Regions from separate parts of the Homo sapiens genome. Here all the other regions are linked to region 1. The links come from fine-mapping of genetic effects on gene expression. A gene starts in region 1. Each other region holds a variant in brackets. All regions are shown on one strand. Distances are between the middles of the regions.

Region 1 (10,814 bases):
GTGCCATGACTTGGGAGTGGGGAAGAAGCTACTCAGAGCTGTGGGTCATTATGCCTTAGCTTCAGCTACACATCCTCTCACTAGCATCTGTAGCAGAAGACTGCAGAGTGCAGACAGAAGAGTGCCTTTCTAGAGAAGGGTGAGAGAATGTCTTTCTAGTGGGGTTTAGTGGTCAGACAGACAGGAGGTAGAGCTTTGGGGAGGCTCGTGTAGATGGCCTCAGCACCAACTAATGAGCAACCAAGAGCACTGTTCACACTATCTCCCTCTGGGTTTGCCAGCAACAAAGAAAACCTGAGTGGTAGGAAATAATTGGTATTTCTCAGCTGAAAAGCCTGAACAAGTCAAAGATAATTTTTTTGACCTGGATGATTGTCTCTTGACTTGCTGGGGAATCCTTCTCCCTGAAGGAGGAAGGCAGAAAGAGACGTTGGAATAATTTGGAGGCATTCATAATGCAGATTGGAAGAGGAAGCAAGGCCTAGCAATAGATGCCAAACTTAGAACTTCAAAGCACATAGTTCTGGTTTGGGTCACCTCTCACCGTCTGCTGAGGACTATATCAGCAACTCACTTGCTTGGGAGTGAGATGAAGTATGTGAATTGCCCTGGGATTTTTCCCAGCTGATGAGCTTTGTTTTGACCCTCAGCATAACGTCTACGCCCTTTCTTCATCTTTTCTTTAACTCCTTTCATCTGATTCCTTTGACACTTTACCATGCAATCTTGAACATGTTCTTCTATAGGGATGCTTCTATAGGGATATTCATCTGTTTCCCAGTCTAGTTTGTAAAATTACGTACGACCACAGATGGAGAAACTGAGGCTTGAGATCTTGCCAGAGCTCATACCATTCTTTCCATCAGCCAAACAGAAGAGCCCAGCTTTCTGGAAAAGCAAGAGAAGTGGCTAATAAGAAGCATTCAGTGGGGGGCATCCATCCTTTTCTGGGATTGGCCTCCATAGTAGCAAACCATGCAGAAAGATTTGTAAAAGATGGACTCATGGAAGGAGGGCTAGGAAAAAGGATCTCTTCTGTAAAGAGCACAGCAGGCAGCATTGGTGACGGAGTTGGGGGGAGGGGGGAGGGGATGAGAAGAATTATCATGTGGCTGAGTGAGTTATGGATGTGCTGAAGGTGAGCTCAGAGTTTCCAGAGTGAATATACTTCTGCAGGGGAACTTCCAGGGGAGGAACATGTGCAAAGGAAAAAAAGCCCTGGATCTGAAGTTAGAAAGCCTGAGTTTGAGTCCTAAGAGATGGGTCATGTAGATGACCTTGAGCAAGTTATTTAACATCTCCGAGCCCATTTCTTTATCTATGAAATGGAATCAGTGAAAGGACAGTTTCCAGGATACGTGATTTGCATGAGTTGAAAGAGATAAAACAAATAAATGCTTGCCAAAATGACCCCGGCACTTGGAGAGCATGTCTTTGTGGATATTTCCAGCACTGTTCTTTTCTCTCAAAGAATGGAACACAGTCTGCCCAACAAACACACAGGTATATATAGACAGGGATAAGATAGATACAGATATAGATATAGATATAGATATAGATATAGATATAGATATAGATATAGATATAGATAGATACAGATATGGATATAGATATGGAAGGTCAGACTGGAGAAGGAAGAAGTCTCTGGGTACAATGGAAAGAGGACCAGCGGCTAAAGATCTGGTTCCGGTTCTGATTCTATCACTTATTGGTCATGTGAAGAAACTGAGGCTTGCAAAGCTTATTTGTAAATAGAGGAGGCTACCTCCCCTGTTGTTCTCATATGGTTGTGAGAAACAAAACACATGGAATATAGATGTAAAAATGCTCTCTAAGCTCAAAGTTGCTACCTTATAATGTAGGTGTCAGGTTTTAGGAAAAAGGATGGGTGGCACAGGGGTCACTGGAGTTACTTAGTATATTTTGACATCCCTATAGAGTAGAATAAGACTTGGTCTGCATACAACAGACCATACCTATAGGTCACTAAACTCTTCCCTTCTGAATTCTCCACAATCCAGAATTTTCTGGTCCCTGTGCTAACCTTGGCCCATTTTAGAAAACTTTGGTCAACCTCTCTTACAATGCCTCTGTAATTTGGGAGAAGAAACTTTATGATTTGACCTGCTCTGCCTCTGATATTCTGGCCAAGCAAAGACCGGGCCCTTCTACCATTATTGCAGGTGTATGGTGGAAAATATTTTTCCTTTTGGGTGCAATTTGTACAATGTGACCCTGGGCTATTCTGGGTCAGGTGCTGTAGCTGAAGTGGGAGGGTGAAAGGACAGTGAAAACCATCAGAAGAACTGGTGAGTAGCCAGGCAAATTGACACTGACAATGAATGGACATTTGTGACAATATATTATGCCACCATGATACCTCAATCCACATACTTAGTTCTGGAGCTCAGCTATTTGGGAAATTTGGGTCTCAAAATTCAGATCTTCCCCTGCTGTGACATCACCAGGAGTCAAAAAGGGATGTGGAGAAAGCGGGGTCTGAATGTGAGGGATATCTCAGTGCCAAGGCGTCACCCACAGAAGAGAAGGGAACAGAAGAGGGAGAGAGGAGAGCCACAAGAATGTCCTGGCCTCTTTTCTCTTCGACTCCTGGCACCTCTCACCATAAGCTGGAAAAGTAATGATCTTCTCAAGTTATAAAAACAAAGTAGAAATAAGAGGAGGATAAAAAATCAAGAGGTACAGGGTGATCTCCTTCTTCTTCTTAATCTCTTTGGACCATAAATTTGGCCTTTAAACTGTCAGATTTCTTTTCCTGTGGACTATCTTTTTTCCTCAACTAAACAGCATGCTTCTTGTTTTAGATCTCTCCCAGTTCCTACATAATAGATGCTTCAAGCATTTGGTTGACCGAAGTGATTGCATGAGCTTTCTCAGTCTTGAGGAGAGAATTGTGGCAAGGCTGCCACCTGTTTCCATGACAAAGTGTTAAAAGTGACTCAACCTAAAATCCAGTTGGGTTGCCCTTAGTAAGAGAGGGACTCTATTTACAGGGCCCGGTCACTTCCCACTTGACTCAGCCGAGCTTGCACAGGCCGTGCACACACTGGCTGCTCCTATCTTGGACTTGTGGAAAGAAAGAAGAACATGAGAAGTACAGGAATCTGTGGCTTTGGAACTTCACAGAGACCTTTCCCAGGGGCTACAATTAGAGAATTGTCCTTTGGATTCACCCTTTTTGCTAAAGAACTGCAGTGAAAGTTCTGGAAGATGTTTGCTCAAAGTGCTACCCCCATCCTCAAACCTTCCTAAGTGCTAAGTGGACATTGTACCACCCACTGGAAATGCAGCTCCCATTTTTGAAGCCTTACAGTGAGGTTGGGAAAACAAGACTCACACACTCCAAGTAAGTTCCAACATATCAGATGGTGAGACAGATGGCAAGTTCTACTAAAGCTCCAGAAAGGAAGGAGTTGCTTAGGACTTGGCTGGTCCAAGAAAGCTTTATAGAATCTGAAATGGACCTTGGATAAAGGGTACAAGTTGACCAACTAGAAAAGAAAATGTGTTGGAGGGTAGTGAATAAACTCGTTTTAGCTGGAGCAGGTTTCATGTGGTCACATAAAGTTGGAAAAGGTTCTGGAAGGCCCTGAATTCTGGATTTACAGTGTGTATCTTAATCAATAAGCATTGGAAGCCATTAAATATTTTTGAGCAGGTGTGTGACTACATACGGGATTTTTTTTTTTTTTTTTTTTTTTTTGAGACAAGGTCTTGCTCTGTCACCCAGGCTGGAGTGCAGTGGCATGATTGTGGCTCACTACAACCTTACACTCCTCCCACCTCAGCCTCCCGAGTAAGTTAGGACTACAGGTGTGTGTCACCATGCCTGGCTTTTTATGAAGACCATCTGGTGGTAGTGGACAGGATGCGATGGGAAGCTTGGAGTTGGGGAGGCTAATTAGGAAAAGTCCTGTAGAAACTATTGAATATCCAACTGAGGTGAGAACAGAGAGAAGGGAAACATAGTTCTCAATTCTGTGAGAACCTCTGTCTTGGAACAGTACTTGTGTGATATTCATTTGATTTTAAAATGTCCAGGAACACTTTGATCCTTCACTTTTCCCATAGTCTCCTGACCATTTTTCCCAGAAGAGATAATGGAAAAGAAAACTGCAGTATAACTTGCTGAGTGACCTGGGGCAGTTATTCTGCCCCTTGATACTTTATCTAATTTAAATCAGATAATAATGCTTTACCTGCCTGAAGGCAGAGGACTGGAATACTGATTTTTTTTTTTTTGAGACAGGGTCTTGCTGTGTTGCCCAGGCTGGAGTGCACTGACGCAATCACGGCTCACTGCAGCCTTGACCTCCAGAGATCAAGAGATCCTCTTGCCTCAGCCTCTCAAAGTGCTGGGACGACAGCCGTGAGCCACTGTGCCTGGCTTATCTTGCTGATCTTTTCAACTCTAAGAGTGAATACTTTTCTTTTCTTTTTAAAATTCTTTTTCGGAACCCTCAAACACCTACTCTCTTCAAACAGCCATTCCAGCCCAGTCTGGGGAAAACTGCTTGCTGGGGTTCACCGTGGGGGCTGTACGACTTCCCCAGCGCCTCTCGGAGATGTGGTTCAGGCTGGGAAGAAAGGTCTTCAAATCTCAACTGGAAAACGAAGCTATGTCTGCGTTAAGCGTCCAGTGGCTCCCGTGATATTTCACGCCTACTGGTTTCGTCAAGCAGGGAGTCGGGTCGTTGCTGTTGGCGACGAAAGGCTCTGAGGCTAAAGCCTTGGGCGTCGCCCAAACCAGCCTCTACTTCGCTTCTGCCTAAAACCACACCGTTAGGCGCCTGGGTGGTGACTCGGTTTCCCTCGGTCACCCAGAGTCCGCATCATCACTCGCCCCCTCCTCATCCCACCCGTTCCCAGTCGGGGGAGGCACCAGGCACCAGTTCTCTGGCCCCACCTCTCGCTCCCCTAGGGAAGCCGAATGGCCTCTTCGCGTCCCTGGCTTCTCGGGGGCGGAGCCCACCTGTGCCCGGGGCGGGGGCGGGGGCGGGGCCGGGGGCGGGCCAGGTTCCGCGAGCAGGAGAGCCCAGAGCCCGGAGCCCGGTCCGGGGCTGGCGGGGGCGCGGGCGGAGGCAGGCGGGCGGGCGCCGGGGAAGCCTCCTTCTGGGCAGCGAGTGAGGGCGGGCGCGCAGGGAGGGAGGGCGGCAGCGAGCCTGCGACGGGAGAGGCGTGGGGAGGAGAGCCCGGCGCGGAACACACGCGCGGAGGAGGAGCCGGGCTCGGCTCCCGGAGAGACCTGCTGGGCGCCCGCGCAGCCCGGAGACCCCTCGCGCCCGGAGCATGAGCCCGAGCCCCGCCGGAGAGCGGCCGGGAGAGACGGCCTCGGCGCAGCCCTGAGACGCTGGGCCGGGACGCGGGGCGCCCTGGGCGCGGGGCCCGGCCGGGGGGCGGCGGCTCGGGGGGTTGGAGCCCGCGCTGGCGGCGGCCGCCTCGGCGCAGCGCCATGGGGAGCCCCCGGGCCGCGCGGCCCCCGCTGCTCCTGCGCCCGGTGAAGCTGCTGCGGAGGCGCTTCCGGCTGCTGCTGGCGCTCGCCGTGGTGTCTGTGGGGCTCTGGACTCTGTATCTGGAACTGGTGGCGTCGGCCCAGGTCGGCGGGAACCCCCTGAACCGGAGTAAGTAGCACCCAGGGGAGGCGAAGGGCGCGGGGGTGGGCGGCGGCGGCGGCTCCTGCGTTGGGGGGACCCGCCTCTCATCCCATCCTCAGACCCGATTTCCCACCCATTTCTCCCTCAGGTGCCCGGCGTCGCCCCGCGCGTACTCGGGGAGAGCTGCGGGCGGGGGAAGCCGCGGGGCCGAGCGCAGAATTCCCGAGCCCGGGCCTGCCCGCCGGCCACGTGGGTCCGGGGCACCCTGGGGGCTCCTCGCGTCTCCCCTCGGAGAGCGACCCGGAGAGAGGCTCCCCGCCCGTCCCGCCGAGACGCTGGCGGAGACCGGGCCCCTCCAGCCGCTCCGGGCTTGCGGTTCCCGGGGAGGAGGTCCGTGGGGTCCACGCGCGAGCTAGGGATTCGGGTGCGGGATGCCCTCGGCCGTCCACACCCAGGCGCGCGCTCCAGTCCGCGCAGCCCAAACTTTGCCCACCGCCTTCTGTTTGGCTCACTCCGTTTCCTCTCCTGCTGCATCTTCTAGGGGGGTTCTTTTTTACCATACCTCGGAGAGTCCCGTCTCTTCCCCGCTTCCCATACGTCGCTCCTCTCCCAGCCTCCGTCCTCGGCTCTTTGAATCTCCCACCTCCTCGCTGCGCCCTCTTTCTCCTGTTCGGGCCGCCCCTTCTGCCACTTTTCTGAACCCTGAGCAAATCTACCAAACTCCCCAGTTTAAGGAGATGATGGACAGCACAGTGGACCGGGCAGCAGGTAGATTCCTACTTCTGTTTTTAACTTAGCCAAAGCCACTTAATATTTCCGTGCCTCAGTTTCCTCCTAGGAAAACAGGAGAGCGTGGTCTCTTTGCCTTTTTACATCAATAGGTATGGCTGTGCGAGGTGGTTTTCAACGTACTGTGGATGGGCCTAACAAAGTAAAACTGACAGTGACAGGGGCCGTAAAAGATCCTGTAATAGTTGGGAAAAGAAATGGAGAAACTCCCGTTACTACCAGGTGCCCAACGCAAGCCCGGGGAGCCGAGGTTCAAAGTTCTGGCACGTGGCCTCCCATGCCTTCACTTTCCTCCCGCTTTGGGGAAACTCGGACAGAGTGGCTGAGCAAGCAGCTGAGAAGATACTCTGACTCTGACCTGTCGTCGTGTCAGCTTCTCTACCCAGAGTTGGGTGTGGTGCTGTGCCTTCTCTTGTGGCCAAAGAGAGAGAATTACTAGGGACAGTCGCTGAGCTGGTTCAGGTTGGAAATGTATATTTATGGCCTAACCTTTCTGTGGTGATGGAAATCATTCCGGCTGTGAGTTAGAGGAGACTGGCTCTGCCACTAACTAGCGGGGGAATCAAGGGAAAAACGACAGCTTCTCAGGTGAAAATGAGGCCTTTGGTCCAAATGATCTCCAAGGTGTCTTTCAGTCTGGATACGAAGACTGATCTGCACGCAAGCGTTTCCAGGGCCAGAGAGCTCAGCACATCACCAGGAAGCCATAGCTTCCACCCCGGGGCCACGACTCCAAGCAGCAGAGCCCCTTCCTCTGATGACCAAAATCTGCCGCCCATAGTGAATTCTTCCCTCCTCTGGGCCTTGTTCTTCCTTCTGAAAGACAGAGAGTGAATCTATTCTCCCCCGCCATGGCCACTCAGGCCCAAATGGATGAGCTCCTTTGGAGTGTGTGTGGGTGGGGGCCTGGGAGGCGACACCTCCTCCCAGTGTAGCCATCATTTTGTTTAGCCAGTGGGATCTTGTGCACAAATTAAAAACAGAGAGAAAGGCAGTTGCTTTGTGACCTTGGAATCAGTAACCTCCCTTTCTCCCTCTCCTCACTTTTCTTTTACCTCCGGTGTGTTTTCTCCCCAAACCTGGATCTAGTTTGCCACAGTCATAATCTGACACTCTGGCCCTCGACCTCTGCCTCTGTCTCCCGTGGGCCGCCTCATTCCGAGCCATCAATTCTTGAGTCTGTTGGGTTCCCCTCCCAGAAGAATCTTAACTCTCTGACTGGGTTTCCTTATTTTTTATTTTCTTTTCCAAACCAATTATCCAGAAAACTCTTCCCAGCCTCTATGCCAGAATTGACTTCGTTTCCTTACTCATGGTTTTTAACAGGAGGCTAAGCTCACACACTGATGCACCTTGTTTCCTCTCTCCTCTTAGAACCCTGAAATTCATCTATTGTGCAGGGTGTCTTTTTGTCCTGCGCTGTCCCGTTATATTCTACTCTCGATTTCCCTGTGGAATAAGATTTAGACTGGAGCTGTGGTTTCTGCCTCCTTGTCTCCCATCCTTTTTTGTTGTTAAGAAGCCCAGACATCTTGCATCAAAGTTCCCTCTTTTCCTATAGGTTTCATTCTCAGCTCAGAGCTATTCCTCTGGAGGGAGAGCCAGGGAGGAGGCATTAGGAAAGGAGAGGTGGGAAGGGGGTTGCTAGCATTCCCACCTCCACACTCTTGGATACCAACAGGAACCAGGGTAGTAAAACTGCACCTCCCAGGCCTGTACCTCTGGCCTCAACCACAGCAACCAGAACCAGCTTGTTGGCTCTGCTTTCCAGCAAGCCACCCTGCCTCCCCTCTCTAGCAATCCCTGCCAACTCACTCCACCACCCACCAGCTCCCTGTCATCTGGAAGGCCAGCCCCCATTACCAGGAACCTTTCATTTGCCTGTCCCTGTGTTGGATCTGGTGCTGGAAGAAGAGTATGGAGAGATGGCAGTCACAAACTCCAGGGTTACCAGTAATGACAGGGGAGCATATTTCCTTCTTTATCTTCGTGAAATAACCCAGTAGTTTAAGATGTGGATGATGTGCAATTTGGTTCCATATGCAGAAGGAGATACAACCACAACTGGAGTGGCTTCAGAGAAAAACAACCAAAATCCTTAACAAATAGAAAATTGACAAAAGAATTAGGACTGTTCACGCATTCATTTACACAAATATTTACTTAGCGCATACCTCGAGCCAGGCATTGTGCCAGGCCGTGTAGGTGTGATGACCAGGATGTGGTTTCTAGCATCTACAGCTTCATTTAGGAGGAAAGCTAAGGTGCCTATATCAAAATGGTTGTAATATAAAGCAGTCATTAAGTTTTGCAAACATAGGACGCATATGTTTCTGTGACACCTCTTGAAATGGGGGCACAGCTCTCCCAACTAATATTTCATGGAAATGGTGACATTTTGGGACGTTTTGAAGAGTTGGTAAGATTTTGGTGGATACAGAAAGGCTATTCGAGACAGAAAGAGTTACGTCAACAAAGACCAAGAGTCGGGGAAAGTTTATGTTTGAGAATACTGAGCAGCTGAGTTTGGTGAAACAGAGGGTATAAGAAGAATAGAGGATGATGCTGTATGTGGAAGGCTGAATAAAGACCTTAAAGAGTGGCATTTATTCAGTAGCTAGCAGAAAGCAGTTGAAAGTTTTAGAATACGGCAGCATTGTAGAATGGGACGGGTAAGGGTAACAATACTTTTGGTGTGGCATGGTGGTTCTGGAACAGGGTCCTGACGAGTCCCCTTGTTGAGCCCAACATTAACTCTTTAGCTGCTGGGTCGTGAAGCTGTCCTGGGGAGGGGTCCGGGTGGCAGTGGGACACTCAGAGGGCCTGGGGCAGCCACTGTACTAACACATGCTTAAGGATTTCAGTGTTTTAATAAGTGGTACGGCTATCCTGGTGTGTACTGGCTGAAAAGCAGCCCTGGGAACAAATTGTTATTGGAAGTTAAAGATTCTCCAATTAGGCAGGTTTTCACAAGTTATATACCCATTTGTTCATATTGGATCAGCAAAGATTCTATCTGAAGGCAGAGTTCTGGACTAGAGGCCGGGGGTGGTGGCTCACACCTGTAATCCCAGCACTTTGGGAGGCCGAGGCGGGCAGATCATTTGAGGTCAGGAGTTCGAGACCAGCCTGGCCAACATGGCAAAACCCCATCTCTACTAAAAAAGATTAAAAAAATACCCAGGCATGGTGGCGCACACCTGTAATCCCAGATACTGGGGAGGCTGAGGCAGGAGAATTGCTTAACTCAGGAGGCAGAGGTTGCAGTGAGCTGAGATTGCACCACTGTACTCCAGCCTGAGTGACAGAGCGAGACTCTACTTAAAAAAAAAAAATGGTTTCTAGAGATGAAATATCTCAGAGCCAAGGGATGACATTTGGGCGCAAATCCAAGACAGAAGGATGGCATGTGCTGGCTCCTTTTAGATCTCCCATTTAAGTGCCAGGATTACTTGCTGGATCCCAAAGTATTCTGAAGCTCAGGAAGCCGTTGGCTTTCGCTGCCTTACCTCTATCTGTACCACATCTCTCTGGTTGGCCTTTGTGACTTCTGGCTGACTCGAGTGGGCTGAGGGAGGCACACCCGCGGTGTGAGGCAGTGACTGCAGCTCTGGCCACCACAGCCGTTCTGATTTGGAAAGGATACAAACCCTCCAGTGAGAGAGGTAATGCAGGGCACAGCAGTAATCTGAGATGCAGGCAGGGAGAGAGGGAGAAGCAAATGAGACAGATGTGTGGGCAGAGGAGGGATAGTGTGGCATGGAGTTGAAACCCAGTGAAGCAGCAAGCACAACCGCCTCGTGTGCTCCTGTGGGCAGGGACTGTGTCTCATGCAGCTCTGGTGGGTGTGTGCCTCTCTGTCCCAGGGAACCTCCTTTTCACGTGGTTTACCTCTCGTGTAGCTCCTTTTCACGTGTCCGGTTTATCGCTCTTTATGCTGATATTCCAGTCACCAGGCTACTATGTGTGTCTTCTAATCAACTTTCAATTCTGGGCACATACTAGGCGCTCAGATAAGTACCTTCTCGTTATGAATGTGTCAGCTCTGAATTTCCAAGCACCTGATATTTTCCACTGGCAGATACTGTGTTTATCAGGGACTGATCCAAGAATAGAACCTAGGAATTCTTGTTCCCTGTACCATAATACATATACACAACAATAGCCTTTGAATACAAATACAGAAGATAAGCGATAAGACATCAATGGTTTTTTTTTTTTTAATCATAAGCGTATTTTCTTTGGGCATTGCCTATACGAGGAATGCAGTTTTTGACAATAGGTGACCTTACCCATATTTAGAGTCTCTCCTTTCCCTGGTCTCTCAGTCCCTGTGCTGATGTGGCCGGCGAACCTCAGCAACACATCTGCCATCTTTACCCTGCCTACTACCCAGGGACCCTCAAGTTG
Region 2 (10,814 bases), 48 kb after region 1:
TGTTTTCTACCCTGTTTCCCAGCAAGGAAATCCTGGGGATTGTGAGCGTGTGCGCAGTGACTCACATGACCACAGCCTCCCTGGTTTACAGTCCCAGCCCTGCATACCTGTTCTCTCACCGACACACCTATCCGCTCAGTGACCACACCTCACAATCTCAACTCTGCCCCAGCCACCAAGCCATGGCTGCCACTCACACAGCCTCTTTTTCACTCTGTTGACAGCCACCTCCCTCCTCAAAGCCCATGTTTCCTGGGAGCTGTGACTTCTCTGCCATCAGCTGTCAAATCCTCCGCAGGCTCTTGCATAAAGCATTTTTCCTGTCTGCATCTCAGATTTCTGACCTGTAAAATGAACCTCAGGCTCACTGCTCACGCCTCTTTGCTGTGTGGAGCAGTGAATTAATGTCTTTAAGGAACTTGTTGCTTGTTGGATGAAAGATGCCAAAGTCAGCTTTGCTCCTCCACCCCCACCTGCACTCCTAACAGCCAAGCCCTCCTTTCTTACTGTTTACCATACAGATAAGCTCGTGATGACTAGAGCAAGTCATTTAAGGTCTGTGAACCTGGGTGGACCTCAGTTCCCCAATCCACTGATCTCTGAACAGCTGCCTCCCATTCACCTGGCAGCATTTGACACTGTTGACCACCTACTGCCTTCTTCTTAAAAGTGTAAAAGTGGCCGGGCATGGTGGCTCACGCCTGTAACCCCAGCATTTTGGGTGGCTGAGGTGGGTGGATTGCCTGAGGTCAGGATTTCGAGACCAGCCTGACCAACATGGTGAAACCCCGTCTCTACCAAAAATACAAGAATTAGCTGGGTGTGGTGGCACGCGCCTGTAGTCCCAGCTACTTGGGAAGCTGAGGCAGGAGAATCACTTGAACCTCGGAGACAGAGGTTACAGTGAGCCGAGATCATGCCAAGGCACTCCAGCCTGGGAGACAGAGTGAGACTCTGTCTCAATTAAAAAAAAAAAAGTGTTAAAGTAACACATGCTCATTGCTTAAAAAGAAAGAAAAGTGAAGGCTGAGGCAGGAGGATCACTTCAGCCTGGGAAGTCGAGGCTGCAGTGAGCTGAGATTGCATTACTGCACTCCAGCCTGGGCAACAGCGAGACCCTGTCTATAAAAAAAAAACAAAAACAAAAACACAATTTTTCAAAAAAAAAAAAAAGAAAATGAAATCCAATACTATACACCAGAATTTAAGTAAAATATAAAGACCACTAGTCCTCTCACCTCTATACAATCATGAAACGTGTCTCAAATCCAGCCTCCTCTCTCCACCCCGCAGCCGCCCCCCCGCCCCCGAACTCTTTTTTTCTGAGATGGCGTCTCACTCTGTTGCCCAGGCTGGAGTGCAGTGGTGTGATCTCAGCTCACTGCAACCTCCGCCTCCCGGGCCCAAGCCATCCTTCCACTTCAGCCCCCAAATAGCTGGGACTGTAAGCACGGGCTACCATGGCTGGCTAATTTTTAGCCCGGGAATTTGAGTCTGCAGTGAGCTTTAAATTGCACCCCTGCACTCCAGCCTGAGCAACAGAGTGAGATTCTGTCAAAAAAACAAACAAACAAAAAAACCCCACATACTGTTATTAATTATCATCACCATGTTGTCAAATCTTCTCTTTCTGAACCCTTCTGCCCTTAATTCCCTTAACCCTTCTGTCTCTTAACCCTTCTGCCCTCCCCCACAAAAACCCTTGTGTGAAAATGTAGTCTTAAAAAGAATTCATCACAGGTTTTTTTTTTTTTGAGATGGAGTTTCGCTCTTGTTGCCCAGGATGGAGTGCAGTGGCGCGATCTCGGCTCACTGCAACCTCCGCCTCTTGGGTTCAAGCGATCCTCCTGCCTCAGCCTCCCGAGTAGCTGGGATTACAGGTGCACACCACCACGCCTGGCTAATGTTTTCTGTATTTTTAGTAGAGACAGGGTTTCACCATATTGGCCAACATGGTCTCAATCTCCTGACCTTGTGATCTGCCTGCCTTGGCCTCCCAACGTGCTGGGAGTACAGGCGTGAACCACCACGCCTGGCCTCACCAGAGGTTTTAACAGATGTTCTATACTATGTAATGAGTGAATTAATTAGTTATTTGGTAGCTCTGTTTTGAGACAACTTGGGGCTTCCCTCTCCTCCTAGAATTAACTAACAGCTGGTGAAAGAGCAGAGGGACAGTGACCACCAGGCCAACCTCGCCCAGAGAACTGACAGCAGCATCAGCGGCTCTTACAGCAGCCCCCTTTCCTCTGTTCCCACTGCAGCCTCCAACCCTGGACTCCCTAAGCCCAGAGGGGAAAGGAAGGGCCGTCTGCCCAGCCATTTGAACCCTGATCCATCTTGGATTGGAGAATTGCTTTGGAGAAACCTGAAATCAAGAATTGGCGCTTGCTGAGATTTGCCTGGGGGAACATTTGCCCCATCCTTGAGTTTGGCTTTTGCATTTTCTGGCCTTTCTCATGCTTTCCTGTCCATTTTCAGAATGTTCCCACTGCATGAAGTATTGTCTCCCTGCCACACTTCATTGTCATGGGGGAGAGTGTCCTGAAGACCCTTGTTTCATGTTGCTGGGGCCCAGGATTGCTGTCTGCAGAGAGATAGGGGTCTGAATAGGTCTACCTCTCAAATTATCCTGCTTCTGGGGTTGATAGGAGTTGGGGGAGGAGACTGAGGAGCTGGAGACAAAGCTCTGTGGAACCCACCAAGGATTTTAAACCCTCTCCCATGAAGAGCCCTAGATCAGTGACAAGTGGGAGAGTTGCCATTTGCAACTCCATCCATCTATTTTTGTCTTCTTTCATTTGCATAGATCTGAGCCAGGTAAGCATCAGCTGATACTCTTCTTATAAATCAGATTGTAACCCGATTTGTCTGTCTCATTTTTTTACCCTCTAATACAGCACAGGTACAGTATGCCTATAGGTATGTCCCTGAAACATTCTATGCAGTTCAGATTTTTTTTTTTTAGGAACTATTTTAAATTCATTAGGCAGGCTTTATTATTTCAGGCATCCATGATGGATCTGCTAGCAACAGGAAAATCGTTCTTCATTTGTGTGTGTTTATTATCAAATCATAGAGTGTAACACTTACAATGGTCCTTAAATATCATCATTTTATAACTAAGAAAACCAAGGATCAGGAGGTCACTGGGATCACAAAGCCAGTGAAAGAACAAGGACCAAAACCTTGGTCTCCTGACTTCTAGCCCACTGCTCTTTCAATCACAGGGACAATGAAATACAGAGAAGTTTAAAACTGTTATCTTCCTATATTTTCATTTCCATCTCTTTTTTCTACTTAAAAACATTTTATTTCTATTTTTTAAAATTCAAAGGTATATAATATTAAAAGGTGCTTTCACAGAAGTAAGCACCATAAAAAATTCAATATGCCTTCTAAGTGTTTTCTATGCCTCTGTGATGCCTGTACACATACACATAGAGGCTCCTATACTTACAAGTGCATTTTTATTTATTTTTTATTTTATTTATTTTTTTTGAGACAGAGTCTCACTCTGTCACCCAGGCTGGAGTGCAGTGGCGCGGTCTCGGCTCACTGCAAGCTCCGCCTCCCGGGTTCACGCCATTCTCCTGCCTCAGCCTCCCGAGTAGCTGGGACTACAGACACATACCACCACGCCCGGCTAATTTTTTGTATCTTTAGTAGAGACGGGGTTTCACCGTGTTAGCCAGGATGGTCTCGATCTCCTGACCTCGTGATCCGCCCGCCTCGGCCTCCCGAAGTGCTGGGATTACAGGCGTGAGCCACCGTGCCCGGCCAAGTGCATTTTTAAATGAATTTTTAATTTTAGAATAGTTTTTCATTTACCCAACATTGCAAAGGTAGTCTGGAGAGCTCTCACTTTGCTCACACCCAGTTTCCTCTATTATTGGCATCTTGCATTAAGCCCCGGTACATTTGTCATGATTAATGAACCAATATCGGATGTTATTATTAACTCAAGTTCATACTGTATCCTGAATTCCTTTCAGATATCCCTTTTCTGTTCCTAGACCTCTGTAGTCATTGGGTCTCCCTAAGTTCCTACTGGCCATGACAGATTTAAGCGTTTTTTTGATAGTGTCACTTTTGTGATATATATGGCAACCTTTTTTCACATAACTATATGTTTTGAACACCTTTCTGGGTTAGTGTGTGTGGCCTTCCACACCCTTTTAACTCACCACAGTGTTCTGTTGAGTGGCTTTACCCCATCATTTTACACTGCCCTTGGCACAGAGCCCCCGTCTGGAAGTGTCACTGGGCCTGGGTGCTGTCTGGTGGATTAGACAGACGCTTCCACTGTCTTGGAATTTGGACACTGTGGGAACAGAGAACATGGATGTAAATGACCTGACAGAGCTCAGAGAAAAGGAGCCACGTGGCCTGGGGCACTGCTGTTGTGGCGACCCTTCACCCCACGCCCTCCACCCTACATCCCTCACCCCACACCCTACGCCCTGCGAGTGGCTCTGTGTTTACATACAAGAGTTTACATCTGTGGTGGAAGCACTTTCTCACAAAAGGGTAGGGCTTATTCTAGGAGGCCCTACCAAAGAAAAGCACTAGGTAGCAGCATTCCAGCTGTAGGGCCCGTGACTGTGGCATGCGGAACATTCCTGCCCCTGGAAATCCAGTAGTAGCTTGGTGGACGTCTGTCCCTGGAAATCCAGTAGTAGCTTGGTGGACACCTGCCCCTGGAAATCCAGTAGTACCTTGGTGGACACCTGCCCCTGGAAATCCAGTAGTAGCTTGGTGGACACCTGCCCCTGGAAATCCAGTAGTAGCTTGGTGGACACCTGCCCCTGGAAATCCAGTAGTAGCTTGGTGGACACCTGTCAGGAGTGCTTGAGTAGAGCGTTGATACTAACCTGTGAAAGAAATTTCTCATGATCATCCATTGTAACTGGAAGAGATCTGAAAAATGACTCGGCCCAAGGTCCCACAGCCAGTGGAGACAGAATGTCTTCTCTTACTGTCTTTTC[C/T]GCTGGCCCTGCCAGCCCAGACCTGTCCCTAGGGGGACATCCAATTCATATTCGTTAATGAAGAGAAAGCTTCCAGATCCTTCAAGGTGTCTCTGTTACCTCAGAAGGTCCAGTGCATATTTTGAAACAACTTACTTTTGTTTTTTTTAGACAGGGTCTTGCTCCATCACCCAGGCCACCCAAGCTGGAGTTCAGTGATGCAATCATGGCTTACTGCAGCTTCGAACTCCCAGGCTTGAGCAATCTTCCCACCTCAGGCTCTTGAGTGCCTGGGACTACAGGTGTGTGCCACCATGCCTGGCTAATTTTTAAAAATTTGTTATAGAGATAGGGTCTTACTACATTGCCCAGGCTGGTCTCAAACTCATGGTCTCAAGCAATAAAACAGCTTTTTAATGTTTAAATTATACCCGAGGTTTGGTTCTCTGCAGATGTCCCCCAGAATTGGGCACAGCCTCCGATCGGCCTTATTCCTCTCACTTAATATTTGTCACTATTCCAAACCCCATGTTCAACACTTCACCCATTACCTTTTCCCTCTGACCTCTGATTTGCACAGGCCCTTCCAGCAGAGCTCCAGGCTGTTCTTGCCCAAGCAGAGATTACAAACATACTACTTTGAGGACTGACCCTCCCAGACTTACCACTTCAGCCGAAGTAAGGGAGAACTAGACAACTCTCTTTGTCTCATGCTACAAAGTGCCCCAGGAGGCCTTTCATACACAATTATTTTTCAGTAAGGAGCCAGGGAACCAGGGTCTTTTCCTCTCATGCACCTTGTGAGGTTGGCAGGACAGCGTGTGACTCATGCCTGGACAGAGGCGCATACCTTTAACAGCCTTGCTGGGGAGGTGCCCCACTTAGGAGTGGTGGAGATACACTCTACTGGTTTTTCCTACCCAGCAGGTGTCTAAGACAGACACACTCAGACAACACTGCTTTCCCCATCACTGCCTGTCATCCAACACTTCAAAGATGATGGACAACGTGTCTGAAGCTGATGGGGCGGAGGACCCCTGCACACCTGCACCTACTAACCTACTGCTGTACCTTCGCCCCACCCCCAGCCCCCTTTGAGAGCTCAGATCCCGCCTAGGAGGGGATGGATGGGCTTGTTAACAGCTGACAAGTGCTCTGCAAAATGCAGCTGTTTAATCATAAATGAACATTAGAAGGTGGCCTGGAGCCACTGTGCTTTAGGAAACTCATGCGCGTGGAGAGGACAGGAGGAAAGGAGATTTCCAGGGCAGGAGAAACTTGGGAAGCAACACTGAATGGGAAGAGAGGGAGGCTTTCTAGGGGATTTAAATGATACTGAAACCCGGATACGGAATAGGAGAAAAAATACCAACTTGCTCTCAGGGTGTCTTTACTCTCCCCAGTGCAGATTTCATTGACCTAAATCAGGTCTCTGCTCCTATTTGCTGGTACCTAGTTCAAGAGAGTCTTATAAATACACAAAGCCGGAAATGCCTGGGTAGGGGGGTGGCAAGAGCATGCGGTTCCACTCCAGGACAGGATCTGACTCAAATCACACTTCCCTCCTGGATTCCAGACTGTCAGGAGGGATGCCTCCGAGGTGGTGTTTGGAAGGAGGTGCTGAGAGCGGAGCTGGGTTATTCTAAGCGTGGCCCAGGGAAGATCTTGCCAGACTTGTTAATGTGTGACCCCACCCAGTGCCATGCTCAGCAAGGCAGAGAAGTGTGCTGTGGGTGGTGGGAGCAAGAAAGAGAGGAGGCCAGGACATCTCTATTCCACACATACCCTGTTTCATCCCTTGCTGCATTTCACTAAAATTATCCACTCGCCCCTACGAGACCTGCTGTGTCCTCCTTGAGTCCTTGTTTGGCATACCTTTGTTCCCTTCCATGGCCGAGTGAGTTCAGTCCACATTCATTGAACTGAAAGCTCACAGGTCTTGGAGCCTGGAGAAATAATCGGAACCATTCCCTTTCGTCTCCAGGCAAGATGAGCGATGGACCCAGGTTGCCTAACCTAGTTAGCTGCATGACACTCCAGAGCATCCAGCTCAAAGCAGGCATTGACAGGGATGGGGCACCCAGAGAAATGGCGCTGGTGCTGCTGTAGGGGTAAGATGTAGCAGCAAGGGGCGGGCAAGAGGGCTCCAGATGATTTCTGCCATGCTGAGCTAGCTGCCTGCTGGCTTTGTAAGCAGTGGAATAAGAAGACTATTGTGTCAACTCTTTGAGGGGGTGTGGCCTTCCTTGGGGTGAGAAAGCACAATGGGAAGGGCTAGCAGCTCCCCCGATCCTCTTCCTACTGTGACCTGAGAGACACTCCATGGGGGGGTTGGACGCTGGGGGGCTGGTCAGGGGAGTTGGCTGGGCTGGGAGGGAAACGGGCCCTTTCAAGAGCAAGTCAGACTCTGGTGAGCTGTTTACCCGCCTCATGCCCAAGGGTGCAATGTGAGTCATTTAATTTAATTGGTTTAATAAGTAAACGGTCTGGGTACAAAGAGGAGGGGGTTGGGTATGAGAGGGAGGGGCGGGGCAAACCCTGCAGAGCTGCTTTGGAAAGAAACCTGTTGCCAGCCCTCTAGGGATGGTCACAATTAAACAGGGAGTGGAGATGCTTTGGGAAGTAGGGAGAAGGGAGAGCCCCAGATGTTGAAGTGGAAAGAGGAGTAGAGGCTATAAGTCGGCCAGCCTCAGATTCTCAGTGCCCATCTGAGTATTCGATTCACTGGTGCTGGTATATCCACAGGGCTGTGCAACCATTGCCACTACCTAATTCCAGAGCATTTTCCTCACCCTAGAAAGGAACCTCACCCATTATCAGTCACTCCCAATTCTCCCCACCTCCAGCACTGGAACCACGACTCTCCTTTTGGTCTCTATGGATTTGCCTATTCTTTTTTTTTTTTTTTTTTTTTTTTTTTTTTTTTTTTTTTTTTGAGACAGGGTCTTACTCTGGTGCCCAGGCTGGAGTGCAGTGGCAGCTCACTGCAATTTCTGCCTGCCAAGCTCAAGGTATTCTCCCACCTCTGCCTCCTGAGCAGCTGAACTACAGGCGTGTGCCACCACGCTCGGCTAATTTTTGTTTTTTGTTTTTTTTGGTACCTTCCACCATCCACCTTCCACCTTCCGCCTTCTGCCTTCCGCCTTCCACCTTCGACCTTCTTCCACCTTCGACCTTCCACCTTCCACCTTCCGCCTTCTGCCTTCCACCTTCCACCTTCCTTCCACCTTCCACCTTCCACCTTCAACCTTCCGCCTTCCGCCTTCCACCTTCTGTCTTCCACCTTCCTTCCACCTTCCACCTTCCACCTTCTTCCACCTTCCACCTTCCACCTTCTTCCACCTTCCACCTTCTTCCACCTTCTTCCACCTTCCACCTTCCACCTTCCACCTTCTTCCACCTTCCACCTTCCACCTTCTACCTTCCTTCCACCTTCCACCTTCCGCCTTCGACCTTCTTCCACCTTCCACCTTCCGCCTTCCACCTTCGACCTTCTTCCACCTTCGACCTTCCACCTTCCACCTTCTTCCACCTTCGAGCTTCCACCTTCCGCCTTCCGCCTTCCACCTTCTGTCTTCCACCTTCCTTCCACCTTCCGCCTTCCACCTTCCTTCCACCTTCCACCTTCCACCTTCTTCCACCTTCCACCTTCCACCTTCTTCCACCTTCCACCTTCCACCTTCTTCCACCTTCTTCCACCTTCCACCTTCCACCTTCTTCCACCTTCCACCTTCCACCTTCTTCCACCTTCCACCTTCCACCTTCTTCCACCTTCCACCTTCCGCCTTCGACCTTCTTCCACCTTCCACCTTCCACCTTCTTCCACCTTTGACCTTCCACCTTCCACCTTCCGCCTTCCGCATTCCGCCTTCCATCTTCCTTCCACCTTCCACCTTCCGCCTTCCACCTTCTACCTTCTGCCTTCCACCTTCGACCTTCTTCCACCTTCAACCTTCCACCTTCGACCTTCCACCTTCCACCTTCCACCTTCTTCCACCTTCGAGCTTCCACCTTCCACCTTCCACCTTCCGCCTTCCGCCTTCCACCTTCCGCCTTCCGCCTTCCACCTTCCGCCTTCCACCTTCCACCTTCCACCTTCCACCTTCTTCCACCTTCCACCTTCCACCTTCTTCCACCTTCTTCCACCTTCTTCCACCTTCCACCTTCCACCTTCTTCCACCTTCCACCTTCTTCCACCTTCCACCTTCCACCTTCCTTCCACCTTCCACCTTCCGCCTTCGACCTTCTTCCACCTTCCACCTTCCACCTTCTTCCACCTTTGACCTTCCACCTTCCGCCTTCCGCCTTCCGCCTTCCATCTTCCTTCCACCTTCCACCTTCCACCTTCCGCCCACCTTCCACCTTCCGCCTTCCACCTTCTACCTTCTGCCTTCCACCTTCGACCTTCTTCCACCTTCAACCTTCCACCTTCGACCTTCCACCTTCCACCTTCCACCTTCTTCCACCTTCGAGCTTCCACCTTCCACCTTCCACCTTCCGCCTTCCACCTTCCGCCTTCCACCTTCCACCTTCCACCTTCTTCCACCTTCCACCTTCCACCTTCGATCTTCCTTCCACCTTCCGCCTTCCACCTTCCACCTTCCACCTTCTTCCACCTTTGACCTTCCACCTTCCACCTTCCGCCTTCCGCCTTCTGCCTTCCTTCCACCTTCCGCCTTCCACCTTCTTCCACCTTCCACCTTCCGCCTTCTGCCTTCCACCTTCCGCCTTCCACCTTCCTTCCACCTTCCACCTTCCACATTCCACCTTCTACCTTCCGCCTTCCGCTTTCCACCTTCTGCCTTCCACCTTCCACCTTCCACCTTCTTCCACCTTCCACCTTCCACTTTCCACCTTCCACCTTCGATCTTCCTTCCACCTTCCACCTTCCGCCTTCCACCTTCCACCTTCCACCTTCTTCCACCTTCCACCTTCCACCTTCTTCCACCTTTGACCTTTCACCTTCCACCTTCCGCCTTCCACCTTCTGCCTTCCTTCCACCTTCCGCCTTCCACCTTCCACCTTCGACCTTCCACCTTCCACCTTCCACCTTCCACCTTCTTCCACCTTCCACCTTCCACCTTCCACCTTCCACTACCGTTCTTGGATTTTGCCAACAAAGAACAAAGAATTGAGGGCAAATCTGTAGAGTAAAGTGAAAGCAAATTTATTAAAAAAGTAAAGGAGTAAAACAATGACTATTCCACAAGCAGAGCAGCCCTGAAGGCTGCTGGTTGCCCATTTTATGCTTATTTCTTGATTAGATGCTAAACGGTGTGGGTTATTCGTGCCTCTCATTTTTAGGCCATATAGGGTTAACTTCCTGATGTCGCTGTGATGTTTGTAAACTGTCATGGTGCTGGCGGGAGCATAGCAGCGAGGACAACCAGAGGTCACTTTTATCACCATCTTGGTTTTGGTGGGTTTTAGCCGGCTTCTTTCCTGCAGTCTGTTTTATCAGCAAGGTCTTTATGACCTGTATCTTATGCCTCCTATCTTATACCTCCTATCTCATTCTGTGATTAAGAATGGCTTAACTTACTGGGAATGCAGTCCAGCAGGTCTTAGCCTTATTTTAGCCAGCCTCTATTCAAGGTGGAGTTGCTCCAGCACCTCTGACAATAGCTCACTACGGCCTCAAACATTTTTGTATAGACGCGGTCTCCCTATGTTGCCCAGGCTGATCCCTAACTCCTGGCCTCAAGCAGTCCTCTGACCTCAGTTTCCCAAAGCATGCGGATTACAGGCGTGAGCCACTGTGCCCAGTCCATTTCTTTTTATTGCTAAGTTATATTCTGTTGTGTGGATAGACCACATTTTGCTTCTCCATTCATAGTTGATGATGGA
Region 3 (10,814 bases), 30 kb after region 1:
AAGGAGGGAGAAACCAGCTATGGGAAATGGATCAGGCTCAGTAGATATGTGAATGGTAGATTAATCACTTGACCACACAAATACATTTTCTATCTCTACTTGGAGTCTGATTCTATGACATTAGGAACCAGCAAACTGGGACCCCCATGGTGGGGTGGTGTTTACAGATGTTCCACTAGGAGCAAGAGATGTGAAGAAACCAAGACCCAGAAATATGTGAATGACCTCAGGGTCGATAGACCCAAGGCTTCGGCTGGCGACTGAGAATGACAACAATGATTCTCAACCTCAGCTACGAATGGGATTGCCTAGGAAGCTTAAAAAATAACTGAGGCGATACAAGCATATGATTTATCGACACTCACGGAACTGTTCGTGTAAAATGGATACATTTTATTATATATAAATTATACTTTAAAAAGTTGATTTTTAAACCTAGTCAACTTCTGGTCTACCATGTAAGGAGCTCAGAATCTCTGCCCTTCTGTCCTAACCACAAGTAAAGAGCTGAACAGACTGGGAAATCGACAATTCTTAGATTCCTCAGAGAAGGGAGGTGAGAAGGAAAACTGCTGTCCCCAAAACTGGGGAGACAGGTAGGCAGATGCAGAGAATCACAACTTACCAAAGCAGAAATCCATGAGCAGAAACCTCTGCAGAAACCAGTGTCTAGGCAGGAAAACCTAAACTGTAATTGATGAATTACTGGAGGCTCAGTGTGAACAAGTCTGAGAATTAAAAATTCCAGGGGACTCAGTCCCAAGCTTGTGTGAGTTTTACCTCTAGGAGCCTACCAAGTCCTCCCTGTACATTTTGGAGAAAAATCCCCTTCTACTTCCAGCAGGGGGAGGGAAAAAGAAAGCATTCTGAAATACACCAAAATATTCTTTTTTTTTTTTTTTTTTTTTTGAGACGGAGTCTCACTTTGCCACCCAGGCTAGAGTGCAGTGGCGTGATCTTGGCTCACTGCAACCTCCACCCCTCAAGTTTAAGTGATTCTCCCACCTCAGCCTCCTGAGTACTTGGGATTACAGGTGCCTGCCACTGCACCCGGCTAATTTTTGTCTTTTTAGTAGAGATGGGGTTTCACCATCTTGGCCAGGCTGGTCTTGAACTCCTGACCTCATGATCCACCCGCCTCGGCCTCCCAAGTGCTGGGATTACAGGTGTGAGCCACCAAGCCCGGCCTATTCTGTTTTTCTTAACAAGGCCTGCCCTCAGGGGAAACTATTTTACGAGCCTGACTTGCTGTCCTAACCTACCTAGGGGAGGGGAAATACCCAACACCAGCCCCTTCTGGTCATCCTGTCCCATCTAGAGTGGGGAGAAGTCTGATGTAGATCACAGTCCAGAGGCAGAAGCTCATTGAAAGACTGAGATAAAACTATAGAATGCATCTGCTCCTGGACACCTAACCACGATATCACTAAAGGCCCTTTTCATAATTTGTTTTACTCAGCACATCACTTTCAACAAAAAGTTACGAGGCATACTAAAAGGGAAAAAACACATTTTGAAGAGACTGGACAATTAGAACCAGAGTAGGTATGGAAGAAGTGTTAGAGAGGCCAGACATTTTTTTAAACTATGATGATTAATATATTAAAATTTTTAATGAAAAAAGTAGACAACATGCAAGAACAGATGGCTAATGTAAGCAGAAAGATGGGAATTCTAAGAATGAATCAAAAGAAACCCTAGAGATCAAAACCCCTCTAACAGAAATGAAGAATGTCTTCAATGGACTCATTAGTAGATGGGACACAGCTACGAAAAGGATCTCTGAGCTTTAGGATATGACGACATAAACTTTCAAAACTGAAAAGCACAGAGAAAAAAGACAAAAACATAACAGAATATCCAAGAACTGTGGGACAATTACAAAAGGTGAAATATACATAATGGAATATCAGAAGGAAAAGAGAGAAACAGAAGCAATATTTGAAACGATAGCAACTGACAGTTTTCCCCAAATTAATGATAAACACCAAACCACAGATCCAAGAAGCTCAGAAATCATCAAGCAGGATAAACACCAAAATAAAACAATAAACACAATACCTAGCCAGACCATATTCAAACTAAGGAAAGTCAAAGATTTAAAAAAAGTCTTGCCGTGTGTGGTAGCTTACACCTGTAATCTTAGCACTTTGGGAGGCTGAGGCGGGCAGATCACTTGAGGCCAGGAGTTCGAGACCAGCCTGGCCAACATGGTGAAACCTGGTTTCTACTAAAAATACAAAAACTAGCCCGGTGTAGTGGCGCATGCCTGTAGTCCCAGCTACTTGGGAGGCTGAGGCAGGAGAATCACTTGAACCTAGGAGGCAGAGGTTGCAGTGAGCCGAGATCGTGCCACTGCACTCCAGCCTGGGCAACAGAGCGAGACTCTATCTTGAAAAAAAAAAAAAGAAAGAAAAGAAGAAGAAGACCAAGAAGAACAGCCTGGGAAACATAGTAAAACCTTGTCTCTACCAAAAAAAAATTTTAAAATTAGCCAGGCATGGTGACATGCGCCCAGCTACTTTGGGAGGCTGAGGTGGGAGGATCACTAGAGCCCAGGAGGCTGAGGCTGCAGTGAGCTGTGGTTACACCATTGCACTCCAGCTTGGGCAACAGAGCAAGGCCCTGTCTCCAAAACAAACAAAAAACCCAAAACTTGTAAGTAGCCAGATAGGGGGAAAACACCTATCAAGAAGCAAAGATAAGAATTAACATCTGACTTCTCAGAAACCGGGTATGGGCCAGTATGGTGACTCACGTATGTAATCCTAGCACTTTGAGATGCAAACAAGAAGTGAGTCAAGTGAAATATTTAAACAGCTGAGAAGAAGAAAAAAAAAAAAAACCCCATCAACCTAGAATTCTGAACCCTGTGAAATGATTCTTCAAAAGTGAAGCAGAAATACTTTCTCAGACAAACAAAAATTGAGGGAATTTGTTGCCAGTAGACCTGCCTTGCAAGAAATGTTAAAAGTAGTTCTTTAAAGAGAAAGAAAATGATACGTCAGAAACTTGGATCTACATAAAGAAAAGAAGAATGTTGTAGAATGAATAACTGAAGGTAAAATAAAAATTGTAATTCTTCATTGATCTAACAGATAGGTTTATTCAAAATTATAACAATGTATTCAATTATGTATGCTCATATATACTGATGTATGCTTATATATAAGTGAAATGAATTGCAGCATTAATGCAAGAGATGAATAGGCAGAATTAGGAATATTTTGTTATTGTAAAGTACTTGCACTACCTGTGGAGTGGTATAGTGTTGTGTGAAAGTGGATGTCCCAGCCTGGGCAACATAGCAAGACCCCATCTCTACAAAAAAATTTAAAAATTAAATTTTTAAAATTTTTTTAACAATGGCACATGCATGTAGCTCCAGCTACTTGGGAGGCAGAGGTGGGAGGACTGCTTGAGCCCAGGAGCCCAAGGTTGCAGTGAGCTATGATTGCACCTCTTCACTCCTGCCTAGGGAACAGAGTGAAACCCTGTGAAAAAGAAAAGAAAGAAAAGAAAAAAGAAAGCAGATGTGGTTTACTTGTATGTTGTAAACTCTAGGGCTCCACTGGAAAAAAAAAAAAGTATAACTGATATGCTAACAAAGGAGAGAAATAATGGAATCATTAAAATGCTCGCTTAAAACCACGGAAGACTGCAGCTATAAAAAAGAATGGGTTCATGTCCTTTGCAGGGACATGGATGAAGCTGGAAACCGTCATTTTCAGCAAACTAACACAGGAACAGAAAACCAAATACCACGTTCTCACTCATAAGTGGGAGTTGAACAATGAGAACACATGGACACAGGGAGGGGAACATCATACACTGGGGCCTGTCAGGGGTTGGGGTGGGGGGGCAAGGGGAGGGAGAGCATTAGGACAAATACCTAATGTATGCAGGGCTTAAAATCTAGATGATGGGTTGATAAGGGAAGCAAACCACCATGGCACATGTATACCTGTGGAACAAATCTGCATGTTCTGCACATGTATCCCAGAACTTAAAAAAAAAAAAAAACCCACAAAATACAGAAAAAGAAAGGAAGACAAAAATAGAAAGAGAGCGTAAGGGCAATACATAGACAATAGTAATAAATATGATAGATATTATTAACCCAGGTATTTTAATAATCATTTTAACTGTGAATGGTCGAAATAAACCAATTAAAAGATGGAGATTGTCAGAGTGCATCTAAAAACAAAACCCAACTGTATATTTTCCACAAGATAACCACTTTAAATAGAAAGACTCATATAGATTAAACGTAAAGGAATGGAGGAAAATATACCATGCTAACACTAATAAAAAGAAAGCGGAAGAATAGATGAATCCACTGTTAGAGTTGAAGACTTCAACATCTCTCTAGA[A/C]ATTGACAGATGCAGCAGCCGGAAAATTGGTAAAGACATAATTGAACTTAACAGCACCATCCGTCAACTGGATATAATTGACATCTATGAACTGCTTCATCCAGCAATAGCAGATTACTAATTCTTCTCAAGCTCACATGGAACATTTACCAAGATTGACCATATTCGGGGTGGTAAAACACACCTTAACAAATACAAAAGAATAGAGTTATACAATGTCTGATCTCAGACCACGATGGAATTAAACTAAAAATCAATAACAGAAAGATAACTGGAAAGTCCTCAAATATATGGATATTTAAAAATGTGCTTTCGAATAACACTTATGTCAAAGAAGAAATCTCAAGAGAAATGTAAAAATCTTGAACTAAATGAAAATATAACCTAAAATTTGTGGGATGCAGTGATAGCAGTGCTTAGAGGGAAATTTATAACACTGAATGCTTATATTAGAAGAGAAGAAAGATCTAACATCAATGACCTAAGCTTCTACCTTAGAAAACTAGGAAAAAAGAGCAAATTAAATTTCAAAAACAGAAGAAATAATGAAAATTGGAACAGAAATCAATGAAATTGAAAATAGGAAATCAGTACAGAAAGTTAATAAGACCAAAAGCTGTTTCTTTAAAAAGATCAGTAAGATTGATAAGCCTCTAAGCCATGCTAACTAAGAAAAAAAAACAAATTACTAATGTCACAAGTGAAAGAGGAGACATCACTACAGATCTCATGGACATTAAAAGTATAATAAAAGAATATTATGGGCTGGGTATGGTGACTCACATATGTAATCCTAGCACTTTGGGAGGCAGAAGTGGGCAGATCACTTTAAGCTCAGTAGTTCAAGACCAGCCTGGGCAAAACCCCATCTCTGCAAAAAATACAAAAATTATCTGGGCATAGTGGCTTGTGCCTATAGTCCCAGCTACTCAGGAGGCTGAGGCTGGAGGATCATTTGAGCTGGGAAGTGGTGGTTGCAGTGAGCTGAGATCATGCCCTGCACTCCAGCCTGGGTGACAGAGCGAGACACTGTCTCAAAAAAAAAAAAAAATTACGGACAACTCTACACCCCAAAATTTGACAACCTAGATGAAATGGACCAATTCTTTGAAAGACACAATCTGCCAAAACTCACACAAGAAGAAATAAACCATCTGAATAGTCATATCTACTAAGGAATTTGAAGAAGTAATTAATAACCTTTCAAAACAGAAAGCCCCAGGCCCAGATGGGTCTGCAGATGATTTCTACTAAACATGTAAGGAGGAAATTATGCCATTTCTCTACAATCTCTTCTAGAAGATAGAAGCAGAGGGAATACTACCTAACTAATTCTATGAGGCCAGCATTACCTTAATACCAGACCCAGACAAAGACCTTACAAGAAAGAAAATTACAGATTAATATCTCTTATGAACATAGATGCAAAAATCCTCAACAAAATATTAGCAAATTGAATCCAACATGTGTAAAAAGATTATACATCATGGCCATTTTTTCTAGGTATGCAAGGGTGGTTCAACACTTAAAAATCAATTAATGTAATTAATCACATAGGCAAAAAAAGAAAAATTACATGATCATATCAATAGATACAGAAAAGATATTTGACAAAACCTGACACCTATTCATGATACAAATTCTTTTTTTTTTTTTTTAAGACAGTCTTGCTTTGTTGCCCAGGCTGGAGTGCAGTGGTGCAATCTTGGCTCACTGCAGCCTCAACCTTCTGGGCTCAAACAATCCTTGCTCTTTAGCCTTCTGAGTAGCTGAGATTACAGGCGTGCACCATCATGCCCAGCTAATTTTTGTATTTTTGTAGAGACGGGGTTTTGCCATGTTGCCCAGGCTAGTCTTGAACTCCTGAGCTCAAGCAATCTGCCTGCCTCGGCCTCCCAAAGTGCTGGGATTATAGGCATGAACCACCACACCCAGCCTGATTTGTGATACAAATTCTTAATAAACTAGGAATAGAGGGGAACTTCCTCAACTTGATAAGCAGTATCTACAACCTACAACTAACATTATACTTAATAGTAAGAAACTCAAAGCTTTCCCATTGAAATCAGGAACAAGGCAATAGGCCGGGTGCGGTGGCTTACGCCTGTAATCCCAGCACTTTGGGAGGCCGAGGTGGGCAGATCACGAGGTCAGGAGTTCAAGACCAGTCTGGCCAACATAGTGAAACCTCGTCTCTACTAAAAATACAAAAAAAAATTAGCCAGGTGTGGTGGTGGGTGCCTGTAGTTCCAGCTACTCGGGAGGCTGAGGCAGGAAAATTGTGTGAACCCAGGAGGCGGAGGTTGCAGTGAGCGGAGATCATGGCACTGCACTCCAGTTTGGGCACCAGAACGAGACCGTCTCAAAAAAAAAAAAGAACAAGGCAAGAAAGCCACCTCTCACTGCTCCTTTTCAACATTATACTGGAAGTCCTATCTAATGCAATAAGACAAGAAAAGGAAAAAAAGGTATACAGGTTGAGAAGGAAGAAATAAAACTGTTCACAGATGTCATGATATTCTATATAAAAAATCTGAAAGAACTGACAAGAAAACTGGAACTAATAAGCAAGTATAGAAGGGTTGCAGGATACAGGGATACAGATGTCAATTGCTTTCTGATATACCAGCAATGAACAAGTGGAATTTGAAATTAAAAACTCATTAATATTCACATTAGCATCCCCCCAAAATGGAATATTTAGGTATAAGTCTAACAAAATATTTGCAAGATCTAGATGAGGAAAACTACAAAACTCTCATGAAAGAAATCAAAGAACTAATTAAGTAAAGAGATATTCTATGTTCATGAACAGGAAGAATCGATATTGTCAAAACATTTGTTCTTCCCAACTTGATCTACAGACTCAATGCAATCCCAATCAAAACCCCAGCAAGTTATTTTGTGAATATTGGCAAACTGATTCTAAAATTTATATGGAGAGGCAAAAGACCCAGAAAGTCAAGTCAGTGTTGGAGGCAAAGAACAAAGTCAGAAGACTGACACTACCTGAATTCAAGAGAGTACGGAGCTACAGTAATGAAGACACTGTTATATTGGCAAAAGAATGGATAAGTAGATCAATGGAATGGAATTGAGAGTCCAGAAATAGACCCATATAAATTATATTCAACTGGTCTTTGATAGAAAAGCAAAGACATGCAATGTGGTAAAGATAGTCTTGTCAACAAGTGGTGCACATATGCAAAAAAAAAAAAAACCTAGACATAGTTCTTACACCCTTTACAAAAATCAACTCAAAGACCTATATGTAAAATTTGAAACTGTAAAACTTCTAGACAACCACATAGGAGAAAACCTAGGTGATCTTGGGTATGCCAGTGACTTTAGATTTTTAGACAACACCAAAGTCAGAATCCATGAGAAACAATTGATAAGCTAGACTTCCTTAAATGTAAAATCTGTTCTGCAAAAGACAATGTCAAAAAGAACAAGAAGACAGTCTACACAATGGGAGAAAACATTTGCAAAAGACATATTTGATAAAGGATTGTAATCCAAAACATACAAAGACAATAAGAAAACAACCCCATTAATGGGCAAAGCACCTGAACAGACAGTACCAAAGAAGATATAAACATAGCAAGTAAACACATGGAAAGCTGTTTAAGATCATATGTCATTAGGGAAATGAAAATTAAAACAACAATAAGATATCACTACACACCTATTAGAATGGCCAAAATCCAAAATATTGACAACCTCAAATGCTGACAAGGACATGGAGCAACAGGAACTCTCATTCATTGCTGGTGGGAATGCAAAATGGTACAGCCACTTTGGAATTCAGTTTGGCAGTTTCTTTCAAAACTCAACATACTCTTACTTATTCCTTATTGTAAGGAACTAAGACCTTCTGTACAGTGTTGAAATATAATGGTTTTTTTTTTTTTTTTGGTTTTTCACGAGAAGGATATAATTCACCATTTTATCTAGCAAGATTTTGAAAACAATGAGAGCATCTCATCTCAGCCACTTTCCTTAGCAGTTCCTGCTTTTATTCATTTGCTTTTTATGTTGCCTCAGACACAGTTTTTATTTCATTAAAACATGAATTGTGCAGATTTGGAGGCAGTTTAAAAAAAATGAAAAGTAACAATAGATAGAGGTAGGGGGTGAGTTTTATTAATATCCTGGAAATTGATCACCCAATCAGCAGTAGAGTCCGTGTTGGAAAGGCAGTCCACACTTCTCCATAGTTCACTCAGCGTGAGGTTCCCTCAATGAAGTTCTCATTTTTAATGACATAGGTCATCATTAGAAAAAGGCCTGGTTGGCCAGGCACAGTGGCTCATGCTTGTAATCCCAGCACTTTGGGAGGTCGAGGCAGGAGGATCCCTTGAGCCCAGGAGTTTGAGACCAGCCTGGGCAACATGGTGAAACCCCATCTCTACAAAAAATACAAAAATTAGCTGGGTGTGGTGGTGTGCGCCTGTTGTCCCAGCTACTCGGGAGGCTGAGGTGGGGAGGTGGGAGGATTGCTTGAGCCCGGAAGGTCAAGGCTGCCGTGAGCCATGATCGTGCTACTGTACTCCAGCCTGGGCAGCAGACAGAGTGAGACCTTGTATAATACCTTGAAAGAAAAAAAAAAAAAAGCAAGAAACAAAGGAAAAGGTCTCATTGTCCGTTCTTAAATGTAAAGACTCTTAGCTTCATCAGTCAGCGTTCACATTGCATCTGGGGTCCCAAACAGCCAACCCCTTACATTAAACTAAATTCTGCTTAACCAGCTCTCACACTGAACTTAGAAGCCAAGAGTTCAGGAGTATGAGCGCTGGAGTCTCCCTCCCTCTTCCTCCATTTTCTACCATCCCATAGTAGTCATGCAGGATTGGGTGGGACCATAGCTTAAGGTGTTGAGGCCAGCACCCAGGTATAACTTGTATGGCTTCGGAGAATTTCCTGAGCATATGGTTTTCCCCATCTCAGAGACCCGTGTAGTACTGGACGCTGGGACATTGGAACAGGAGTGTAGGAGAAGACCCACAGATTGTCCCCTTGTCACCAGCCCTATCAATCAATGCACACCAAAAACTGGAGCACCAGGCTCCTGAGGCAGTGATGGGGGGAGTAAACTGGAAAGGCTGACTGGGGCCTAATGTGTGCGGGGGGGAGTCTTTATTCTTATGTATTCTTTGATAACAGAATCATTAATGAGAGCATTGTCCGGATTTAGTCTCAGGTTTCACTCGTTAGGTTGAAAATGTGAAAAGCCTCTACCCCTTTAGCTACAAGTGAGGAAACCTGGGTATAAAAAGGAGGCCTGGAGTTCTTGTTCTGGCTCTGCATAGCGTAAGCACAGTGCCGGCATTTTACTATTAAATAATAAGAATGTGTGGACCACTTTCTGTGTTCCTGGCACAATGGATGCACTTTGTATGTGGCAGCTCATTTCAATCTCAGAGCTTCCTTCTCTTTTACAGATTAAATAAACAGAAGCTCAGAAAGGTTAAATAACTTGTCTCAAGTTACACAGTCACACTGTAACAGCCAGGATTTGAAACCAGGTCTATCTGACTTCAGAACCCATGCTCCTAGTCACCTCAGGTCTGCCCCCTAAAAGGGTTTGCTTTAGGGGTTCAGTTTCCTGGGGAGGGGTTTCCAGTTGCTCTCTTTGAGGTTTCTCATTTCCTCCTGAATTCTTGGGTCGTTCTTTTTCCCCTTAGTCCCCCTAACTTTCTTTGTAAACCTTAGTTCAGCTGATCAATGTACCCTCCGCCAAACGTACCGTAAGAAACAAAAGGGTCATCTAGACCTCAGGCATGCAATAGGTGAGGTAAAATTACCTCTAAGGTTGCCTCCTATTTTCAGCACTTGGAAGTACCTGCTGTGTTTCTAGGCCTATGCTTGGGGCTGTTGTGTACAGCTATGCAGGTTGTTCACTGCAGAGATGCTCCCTTCTTAGGGGGTGAATGCGGACCAGACTCTAGCATGAGCTTCACTTGCCAAACTGCGTGCCTGAGGGGAAGGCACAAAGACACTGGATGGGTTAATGGTAGCCCTGACTCTGCTGGGCTCAGGGGTAAGTCTGGCCCTTGGGTAGCTTTCTTATCTTTATTTAGAAAAGTATCCCCATGAAATAATGGAAGCCGGGTCTGCAGCTCTGCTGTGTTGCAGGTAGTGTGAGGAGTGCAGCAGGTGCTCAGCTACCAAGAATTACAAGAAGATCAATGTTCATGAATGATATACATTTGAAAAGTTTACATGTATTAAACTTTATTGACAGTATATATTTGTGTTTATATGTGCACATCTATAAATATAAAAGCAGATTCACATCATTCTCCTCCCTTGTATTCCAATACACTTTCTTGAGGGGTACATAAAAGGTTGGAATTTGTTAGCTCCTTCAGAGTTGCAGAGAACCCTAAATATGCCCATATATGTGTCATGCCATGTCCCCTGTCCAGGATCATGGCA

Evidence for each region.
Region 2: its variant is fine-mapped to the expression of B4GALNT3 in tibial nerve (GTEx, PIP 0.97).
Region 3: its variant is fine-mapped to the expression of B4GALNT3 in unexposed skin (GTEx, PIP 0.98).

The regions. Positions count from the first base shown.
Region 1 is chr12:454,904-465,717 of GRCh38, forward strand. B4GALNT3 (beta-1,4-N-acetyl-galactosaminyltransferase 3) reads left to right here and starts at 5,036. Exons shown (of 20, transcript NM_173593.4): 1 at 5,036-5,642. The coding sequence starts at 5,474. RefSeq lists an enhancer at 4,204-5,187.
Region 2 is chr12:503,154-513,967 of GRCh38, forward strand. The region is part of intron 1 of B4GALNT3 (beta-1,4-N-acetyl-galactosaminyltransferase 3); the gene reads left to right. LOC124902852 (a long non-coding RNA gene) reads right to left here and starts at 5,017. Exons shown (of 3, transcript XR_007063150.1): 1 at 4,839-5,017; 2 at 4,695-4,802; 3 at 4,572-4,622. RefSeq lists enhancers at 6,212-6,785, 7,629-8,275. The variant C/T (reference allele first, on the strand shown) is at 4,989.
Region 3 is chr12:485,319-496,132 of GRCh38, forward strand. The region is part of intron 1 of B4GALNT3 (beta-1,4-N-acetyl-galactosaminyltransferase 3); the gene reads left to right. Among named protein-coding and RNA genes, the nearest start is that of B4GALNT3, 31 kb to the left of the region's middle. The variant A/C (reference allele first, on the strand shown) is at 4,374.